2 linked regions of the Homo sapiens genome follow. The protein of the gene in region 1 purifies or fractionates together with the protein of each later gene. This does not show direct contact. Each region holds a gene or a part of one and is shown on either strand. Other genes may lie near its edges.

What was found. Proteins that work in one complex are often made in the same cells at the same time.
Region 2: the proteins of TPPP3 (region 1) and ARFGAP3 fractionate together in Homo sapiens (co-fractionation; one large-scale study listed by BioGRID). This does not show direct contact.

What each region holds. Positions count from the first base shown.
Region 1 is NC_000016.10:67,390,600-67,394,675, forward strand, and holds the start of TPPP3 (tubulin polymerization-promoting protein family member 3), read right to left. Parts: upstream 2,900-4,076; 5' UTR 2,781-2,899; intron 2,439-2,780; exon of another isoform or gene 2,348-2,438; intron 774-2,347; exon of another isoform or gene 597-773; intron 519-596; 5' UTR 513-518; coding exon 325-512; intron 34-324; coding exon 1-33. Other genes in the region: palmitoyltransferase ZDHHC1, read right to left, coding at 4,067-4,076. UniProt on the Homo sapiens protein: Regulator of microtubule dynamic that has microtubule bundling activity. Required for embryo implantation; possibly by regulating beta-catenin. Also required for decidualization via regulation of beta-catenin.
Region 2 is NC_000022.11:42,811,391-42,816,362, reverse strand, and holds part of ARFGAP3 (ADP-ribosylation factor GTPase-activating protein 3), read left to right. Parts: intron 1-4,972.

The sequences.
Region 1 (4,076 bases):
TCCTCATAGTTGATGACCCGAGCAGACTTCCCCCTGACAGGCATGTGGGCACCATGAGGGTTCCCCTTTCTTTTTTCTCCCCCAGGGGAAAGCTCAAACACATTTGCTGCCACCACAAATTATGCAATTGCGTTTCTTTCCCACGTTTGGGGAAGTCGCAGGGGTCAGCAACTCTGGAGGGCAATAGATATAAGGTTTGCCCTGGAAGAACGACCTTCGTGATCATGGTGTTTCCCTGACCCCTTCTTGATGTCCTCCCTGGTTCCAGCCCCCCAGTTCCCCACCTCCTGGGAACATGAGAAGCAGGGGCTGCTTAGGGCTCACTTGACTTTGGAGAAGACGATGTCCACATCGGTCCCTGTCACGGACTTTCCGTCAGCCACCTTGCAGTCCTTGCACAGCTTGGCCCAGTTCTTGCCATTCATCTCTTGCCCACTGGCCTTGGGGTCACCATGGATGGCAAACTTGCGGAAGCTCTCCTCCAGCCCAGCCATGTCTGTGCTCGCTGCCATGCCACCCTATAGAGACCCACCTGGGTCATCTCCCAGCCAATCTGCCCTTCCCCTCCCCCAAGCCCAGAACATCCCAGCCTCTACCTCAAACCTGCAAGACCTGGGCAGGTTCTGCTACAGAGTTGGTGCTGGAGCTGCCTGGGGAGAGGGGCCCGTCACTGTCGCCCTGGGCCACAGAGCCCCAAGGAAGAGCCCCGGGAGGCACGGTCTTGTCACTAATGCCAGCCCTGGCTCTCAGCAGGGTTCAGCAGATGAAATAATGATGCCCACAGGGAACAGAGTGGCACTGTCCAGAAAGACTGTTAGGGCAGCAGCTGGGGCCCTGGCTTTGTCTGGCCCTGGCACAAGGCCTTGCTTGGGTGGAAGTGAGGGTGGCAGAGCAGGCCCCCTCCCTGGAAGCTCCATGCCAAGCTGGCTTGGGGCCAGGCCAGGCTGCTGGTCGGGCAGGCATTCAGTGAGGACAGCATCTCTGTAAGGGTCATGAGGACCCAGCAAGAGCCAGTCTGGGCACGGGTGCATGCCCTGGGCAGGGGTGCAGCTGGTCCAGCAAGGCCTTGTTACTATTTGCTGTTAAACAAAAACATGAGGGGAGCTTGGGGCTGGCCTGGCCACAGTTTGTGAAGCCTGGAGACGGTTGCTAAGGGAGGGTGGTGCTGCTTGGAGAATGTTGCTAAGGGCAGGATGGTGTCAGGGCAGCTCAGGGAGAAGCTCCCAGTGCTGAGGGGCTGGGCTGGGCTGGGAAGCTGGGGCCCACGGGTGGGGCACGCCAGCACTCCCTGCGCCTAGGGCATAACCGTGGCTTCCTGGCCCCTTGCCACCGACTGGTGCTGTAACCTCCCACTGTGGAGTTTTGGGGGAGCAGGAGGTTGGGGGCTAGTAGCGTGGGGGCTGTAGAGTTACGAACCCCAAGAGTCGTGCTGGCAAGTGGGGCTGTGGCTGAAACACACTTCATCATGTCTACACCTCAGACCTCCCCTGGCCACGCCCTGAACTTGGCCACACCAGCCCACATTCCCAGCGACCCTGTGCACTCAGCCCTGGCCTGCCACCCCCTGGGCCTTGTACCCCTGGCCATACCTTCAGCCCTCCATCCTCCATCTTCACACCCACAGCCACAGCCCTCGGCCACCAGCCCCCACATATATACTAACAAGCCTGCGCCAACCCCAGTAATACCCACAGTCCAGCACTAAAGTGCCCCCCACACCCACAGCCCTCCGCTGCAGACCCCTGGCCACACCCTGAGCCTACACAGCAGCCTTCTCCATCCCCACACCCGCAGCCCTGGGGCTGAGGCCCCTGGCCACAAACCTGCATCCCTTCCTGAGACCCCTGACCATAGCCTCAGCCACTCACCCCCTCCAATACCCGCAGCCCTTTATCAAGGCGCCCTGACCCTCAGCACCCCTTTGTCCACACACCCTCAGCCCTCTGGCCACACCCTCAGCCTGCACTGAAGGCCCCAGTCCACATCCACACACTAACATTATAAGACTCCCAGGTACTATGCGGAGATCCCCTGCGTAGAGACCTCCCCACCACATCCCCCTCCTCCACTGCCACCTCCTGACCACACCCTCGGTCTCAGCAACCATCTTCTAGCTCTGCCTTTTACACTAGGGCTTCCAGTGACCACGGCCTGGGCTCTGCCCGGCTGCCCCATCTTCCACCAAAAACTCCTCGCCAGTGACCACACTCCCATCCCTAAGTGGCAGTTTCTGGGACTGTGAGCACCGGTGGTTCCTACGTTACAGGGACCATAACCCCAGTCCACGCTGCACTCCCCTTCCCTTTCCCTGGGTGCAACCTCCCACCAGGGACCCCAAGACCCGCACTTGGTTCACCAAGGGTAACGTCCAGGGGAGCTTGGATGCCACAGGGTGCTTGGCCCAAGCACTGGGCGGATCCTGCGTGCAGTGCTCACTCCTGTCCGTGGAAAGATGGATTCTTGGTCATCTCAGCGCGGTCAGGTGGCGCTGGGTTGCAGGCCGCAGCCCCATGGGTCTGCAGGCCATGGATGGAGTGGCCACACCCGTGAACTGGAGCCACCCGTCCCGCTCCCACTGGGACAGCTGGAGTCATCAATCAGCCGGACCAGGAGGTGGGGGCTGCGAGGTGGAATGCTTGGGGCCAGGGCAGGGCCGCTCAGCTGGCTCCTCGGCTGGGACCGCCGGAGGTTGGGACCCTTTCCAGGCTGCTCCCCCCAACCCTCATCGTGCAGGATACTGATTGGGGTGGCGGGCATCTGGGTCTCCTATGGGCTTCTACCTCGCGGCTGCTCCTGAAGTGTGCGTTCGGAAGGACAGAACGACGCAGGAATGGACCGATGGACGCGGGAGACCAGGCGGCTCCGCAGCTCCGCTCCCTGCCGGCTCCCGGGTGGGACTGCAGCCCAGGCGGCTCCGCCGTATTATCCCCTGTTTCTCGGTCTCCATAGAGACGGCGAGTCCCACCCCCGAGGCTGTCTCGGCGGGAGAGTGACCAAGGTCACGCCGGCCCCGCCCACGAGGCCCCGCCCTCCCCGAGACTCTCCGGGAGCCGCATCCCGCCCCTCCCCCGCAACTCCGCGGTCCTCGCGACGGCGAGACCAGCGCTCTGCAGTTCGGGGCGTCTTCGGACGGCCCCCTGAGGAAACAGCCTCCCATCCTGGGATGTGCCTAAAGCTCTAAGCGGCCCCAATCTCCAGAAGAGATCCAGCTCCCCAGAGAGTCAACCAGAGGCCACTGGGGAGCTGCGCGGGGCATTGGTGGGGCTTGGGGAATCGGGAAGGAGCTCTCCCTCAGTGACAGGGGTATACGGTTGACTCAAGAGCACTGCCATCCACTGAACGGATGGCACCCCCAGGCCACAACTCCCGTGCTCTCTTGGGTAGGATTCAGAGCCTGGAGCAGTGGGGAAGAAGGGAGGGGACTCCCTACGAGCGAATCGCGCTCGCCCAGCCCCAGGATGCTGGCATTCGACGGCAGCCCTGCTGCCGGGGAAAAGCTGCGGGACCTCCTGGCTCGGCCCCCTCCTTTCGCCGCCACCTCCCCACGGCCTCGCAGCCTCAGCGCCCACTGCTGCTTTCGGAGCCCAAAGCCTGCTTTCTCTCGGCCTCCCAGTGCAAAGCCCATCTTTAAGAAAAATAACCTCCTCCAGGCCGCCTTCTAAGGCCTTTCCTAACCACGAGCCGCACGTGAGCACCTCCACAGGGCAGCCTGGGTGGCTACCTACTATACAGGGACCTCCTCCCCGCCCCCGGTCCACTGGCCAGGGTCGGGCTTCTGGATGGCCCGTGGCCCCTGCCATTAAGAAAGTAAGCGCGACGTCCGCAAAAGCATAAAAAAGTTTATTGGAGCATCACAGCCGGTGGGGCGGGTATTGCTGAGTCGTGGGGGAGGGAGGCCGATCCCGCCGGCCGTAGGGGCCCCTAAAGTGCACTCGGTGCGGCAAGGATGGGGTGTTGCATAGAGAGTCAGGCCGGCCGCTCTAACTCGGCCCTCCGGCCTCTCGGCCCAGCTAAGCCAGACCAGCCTCCCGGCCGCCCGGCGCCCTGGGCTCGCCGCTGCTCGGGCTCACGAAAAC
Region 2 (4,972 bases), on another chromosome or scaffold:
CACTTACTTGTCACCTAGGCCAAGTTATTTAACTTCTTTGTGCTATAGCTTCCTCATCTGTAAATTAGGGACCCTAGTAATACCTACCCAATAGGGTTGTGTGAGGATCGAATGAGATACTGCGAATGCTATAGCACGTTTAGAATGGTGCTTGGCTCTTACTATGTTTAGCTGCTATATGATAATATAGAAACTCAGTTTAAGAGATGTGATTCAGTCTAAATGTTTTTTGTTTGTTTGTTTGTTTATGAGATAGAGTCTCACTCTGTCACCCAGGCTGGAGTACAGTAGCATGATCTCGGCTCACTGCAACCTCCACCTCCCAGGTTCAAGCAATTCTTATGCCTCAGCCTCCTGAGTAGCTGGGACTACAGGCGTGTGCCACCATACCCGGCTAATTTTTTGTATTTTTAATAGAGATGGAGTTTCGCCATGTTGGCCAGGCTGGTCTCAAACCCCTGACTTCAAGTGATCTGCTGGCCTCAGCCTCCCAAAGTGCTGAGATTACAGGCATGAGCCTCCACGCCCAGCCTAAATGTTTGATTACTATTGTTAGGTAGTTAAACTAACCACATTGAGGACCACCTTTGGGTTAGCAGTTCATGAAAACTGAAGGTGTTCCTGTCGGAAATGGGCGGTGCTTACTGGAAGGCTCCATCACTTATGTCTCTGAGGGCATTAGAGTTGTCTGGCAATTTATAGGTTTGAAGCGTTTTCATATGTATAAAAGATATATATGTGTGTGTGTATATATACACACCCACACACATGCACTTCATATATAGAACAGATATAAATATATTACCTAGGATCTAATTGTGAAATTGTATATTTTCCTATCAATGTTTATAGACAAGGAATTGTATAAAGAATACTATCCTTAAAAATGTCTCTAAGTATAGCTCTAAATTATTTCAAGTCCAGGGATTTTACCAAAAAAAAAAAAAAAAGTAGTAGTTTAGTGGTGTTCCATGGTGGTATTTTCAGAGACTTGGGTGGTTTTATATTTTTGCCTATCCTTTGCAGCCTGTATAATGCACCAAGTTTCACTTTACTCAGAAGTGATACCCAAATCATGCCTTTTAAAGGTATGTAAATAGATTTTACACAGAGTAAAATTAAATGTGTAATTTGATTTGGAAACTACATACGTGTCAGATCATTTCAGATGTGAATATTAAATGGTGGACTAAGTCTGGGTCAGAGGAAACTCTTGGCAGTACGGGTCTGTATTAGCCTGTGTGGCTTCTCACAACATCTTTGATTATTTCACTGCTTATTAGCAACTTCTGCAGATGATAGTGTAGGAAGGTAAAGAAAGTTTAGGCTGGGCATGGTGGCTCACACTTATAATCCCAGCACTTTGGGAAGCCAAGGCAGGAGGATCACTCGAGCCCAGGAATTCAGGACCAGACTGGGAAATATAGTGAGACCTCATCTTTACAAAAAATTTCAAAAATATTAGCCTAGCATGGTGGACATGCCTGTAGTCCCAGCTGCTTGGGAGGCTGAGGTGGAGGATCACTTGAGCCTGGGAGGCAGAGGTTACAGTGAGATTAGATTGCACCACTGCACTCCAGCCTGGGCAACAGAGCAAGACCCTCTCTCAAAAAAAAGAGAAAGTTTCAGTTAAATCAGTACTGTTGCTTGGTAGCCGGGTTGGTAAGAAAGCTCTAAGTGAGGTTGCCTAATGGGAACTTCAGAGACCCTCACTGGCTCCAGGTCACTGACAGGCCCCTGTGGGGCCTTTCTGCCTTGTAAAGGCTTCAGGGATCTTTCAGACTTCCCCTTCTTCAAAGGCTTAATCAAAAGAGTTAGACCCAGAAGCCACTGTTGCTATGAAACTGTTACTTATGGTTTGAAACCTGGGAGCAGATGGCATATTTATATAGACCACACCTCCTGGACTCTTTCCAGAGAGACCTTGGTGTATTGTTTATCACGACCTGCAGATTGTCTAATAGGAACATAAATGCCTTCTCTAGTCCTCCTTGGCATGGTGACCACCACTAGTAGAATGAGGATACTATTAGGTACTTTGGCAACTGAGGTAAAATAAACATGGACTCTGAAAGCAAATATATTAGTTCGATGAAGAGCTCTTATTGCTTTCAAATTATTCATTAGCCCATTAGAACTTGAACATTATGAATTATGAAAGAGTTCTGTTTCTGTTAAAAATAAGATAAAACCTGTCCTTGTTTTTTTTTATTATTGAGTTCCATTATTTCTAGGATATAAACAGTATAATTATATATTGAGTACAAGATAATGAAACTAGAACAATTTGCTCAGCCTTATAAAGCCAGCATGGCCTTAATTAGAATAGACAACTGTCTATAGCTCTAAATCAGAGCAAATGTGATATTAGGGTGCTCTTATCAAGGGATTTTAAGGAATGTTTTCAAGATTGGGTAAAGACAGAGTGGGAGGGGAAAAATAAAAGTAAAAAAGCATTGAGAGCTATACAATCAAAACATTAGAAAGCCAATAAAGGTTTGGAGATGAGGAAGGAAAGTCTGTGTGTTTCTGAGCAGGGACTAGTGGCCGTTAGTCGTCCCACTCACCCCATCCTTCCAAAGGTCAGCTGGAGTCCTGGCTGGTGGTCTGTCGGTCCTCTTAGTGAGTTGCCAGTCCTCCTACTGAGTTGCTCCTGCTTAGCATGAGCACAGAGAGCCTCTCGTGGATGACTGGAAGACAGAGAAGCCGCCAGCCAGCCCACGCATGGACTGCTGCCTCACAGGCTCATGCTGGTCAGGGGGACCCAAGCCGATGGCTGTCTCTCTTCTTTGACTTCTGAATAGTTCAGTCACTTAAAAGTAATCTGATTCCTCTACATTTCAGGATAAGTACATTGGCTTATAAGAATGAAGAATGTTATTTCCTTAGAGTGTTGCTAAATCTACAAAATTTAGTATCACAGAGTCATGAAGAACCTGGAAGTTCCACCCCACCCTCACCCTGCACCAGTCCAGTGCTGACCCCCCTCTTCCCACTCCAGGGCAGTCCAGCCTCTACTACACCCTTCCTTCTCCTCAAGGCAGCCATTTGGTCCCAGGTCAGCTCCGTGAGAAACTCTGCCTTTCATTAATGCAGCTTCTGAGGCTTCTGCATTCAAGTCAGCCTCCCTTCCATAAGTCAGTTCCCAAGCCTCATGAGGGCAGGAGCTGAATGTGTCTTCTTGCCCTTTGTCTTCCCCTAGCAGAGTGCCTGACTCCTCGTAGGTGCTTATTAAGTAGTTTTAAAATTCCTCACTGAATTGATCTTAGTTCTTTCATGGTGCCTTAAAATAAGTCCCTCAAACATGTGAATATCACCTTGCAGGCCAGCACACATCCCACATCTTTTGAACCTTCCTCCGATGTAACTTCCGGTTCCTTCAGTGTCCTGATCTCTCTTCTCTGAAAGGGGATCGGTCATCTCTCTTCCTCCAGGCAGAGCCTGGGTGCAGTACAGATCCACTCATCCGCCATAGGGAGAGCCTGGTCGGTTTCTAGCTGAAATCCAGATACACTTTGAACACCACGTTTTCCTTCCTAAGGAGTAGATGCTAGTGTCATGAGATTTGTTCTTAATGACCTTCTTGCCAGAGAAGGCAGAAGCCACATTTAGAAATTCTACTTTCTGTCTATTAAGGATGTAATATCATACCATCTGCTCCAACAGCAGTTTATCCTCTGTCCCTTTTTTGTTTCGTTTTGTTTTCTGCCAAGAAAGAGTAAATGTGTTCTTAGCATTTCCCCCACCCAGATCTTAGCTCACCGAGGTCCCTGGCCTCTTTGCTCTTATGGGTTCTTGCTTCCCTCTTATATTGGCCTTTGGTTACTGGCCCCTCTGACCTCCTATGATCTGCATCTTCTGTGCAACTCCTTATAGCACGGAGCTTGGTGCTCATCTTATTTCCAGTGTGCTTCCTGTCCTTACTCTCTGGAGAAAACCTGGATGATGTCTGTTAAGGCCTCTGCATTCTCTTCTGTCACCCTTCCTTTCCTAAGACCTCCCTGGGATCTGCCTCTCTCCTCTGAACTTCTTGGACTGCCTTAATGAGGTGTGTATATCTGGCCAGACTGCTTTTCCATCCTAAGCTATCGTGAATTCTGGCATGGCACAGTCCCTTTTTTTTTTTTTTTTTTTTTTTGAGACAGTATCCCACTCTGTCACCCAGGCTGGAGTGTAGTGGCATGATCATGGCTCACTGCAGTCTCGGCCTCCCAGGCTTAGGTGAGCCTCCCAAGTAGCTGGGACTATAGGCGTGCCACCATGCCCCATTAATTTTTTCTTTTAATCCCCGGAGATGGTCAGGAAACGGTTATTTTATTTGTTTATTTATTTTTTATTTTGCATTTTTTGTAGAGATGGGGCTTTGCCATGTTGCCCAGGCTGGTCTGGAACTCCCAGGCTCAAGCAATCCACCTGCCTTGGCCTCCCAAAGTGCTGGGATTACAGGTGTGAGCCACCGTGCCTGGCTGGTTGATGGTCACTTTTTCTCAAGGTTTTGGCACATCCACCTCGCCTGTCAGTCTCTCCTGTTCCAGGCAGACCTTGCTGCTCTTGGTCAAAGATTTTTCTCTAATCACACAGGACCAAAAGCCAACACTGAGTGCTGCTCTCTGAGCAATGCCCTGCTCAGTGACAATTGGCTAATTAAAGTGTAAACTGATCTGAAGGCCAGGCTCTCCTGGGATGCTTGCAAATCAGATCAAGTTTACTGCAGGCTCCAGGCTGAAAGACTATCCCCAGAATGGTCCAGTGATCATGATCCATAGCTTTGTATCCAACTCCAGGAGGAGGTTAATGAGCATCATTTACATCATTTTCATTGAATGTGCTTAACACGGAAGGGATTGCCAACAAGAAGCTCCTTGTATGGAGTCAGTTCTCTAGGCCCAGCAGTGTTATTTGTGATTGCCTAACCAGGCGGAATGAGACCTAAAGACAGTGAAATGTGTAACCTGTGGTAGATAACATTTAA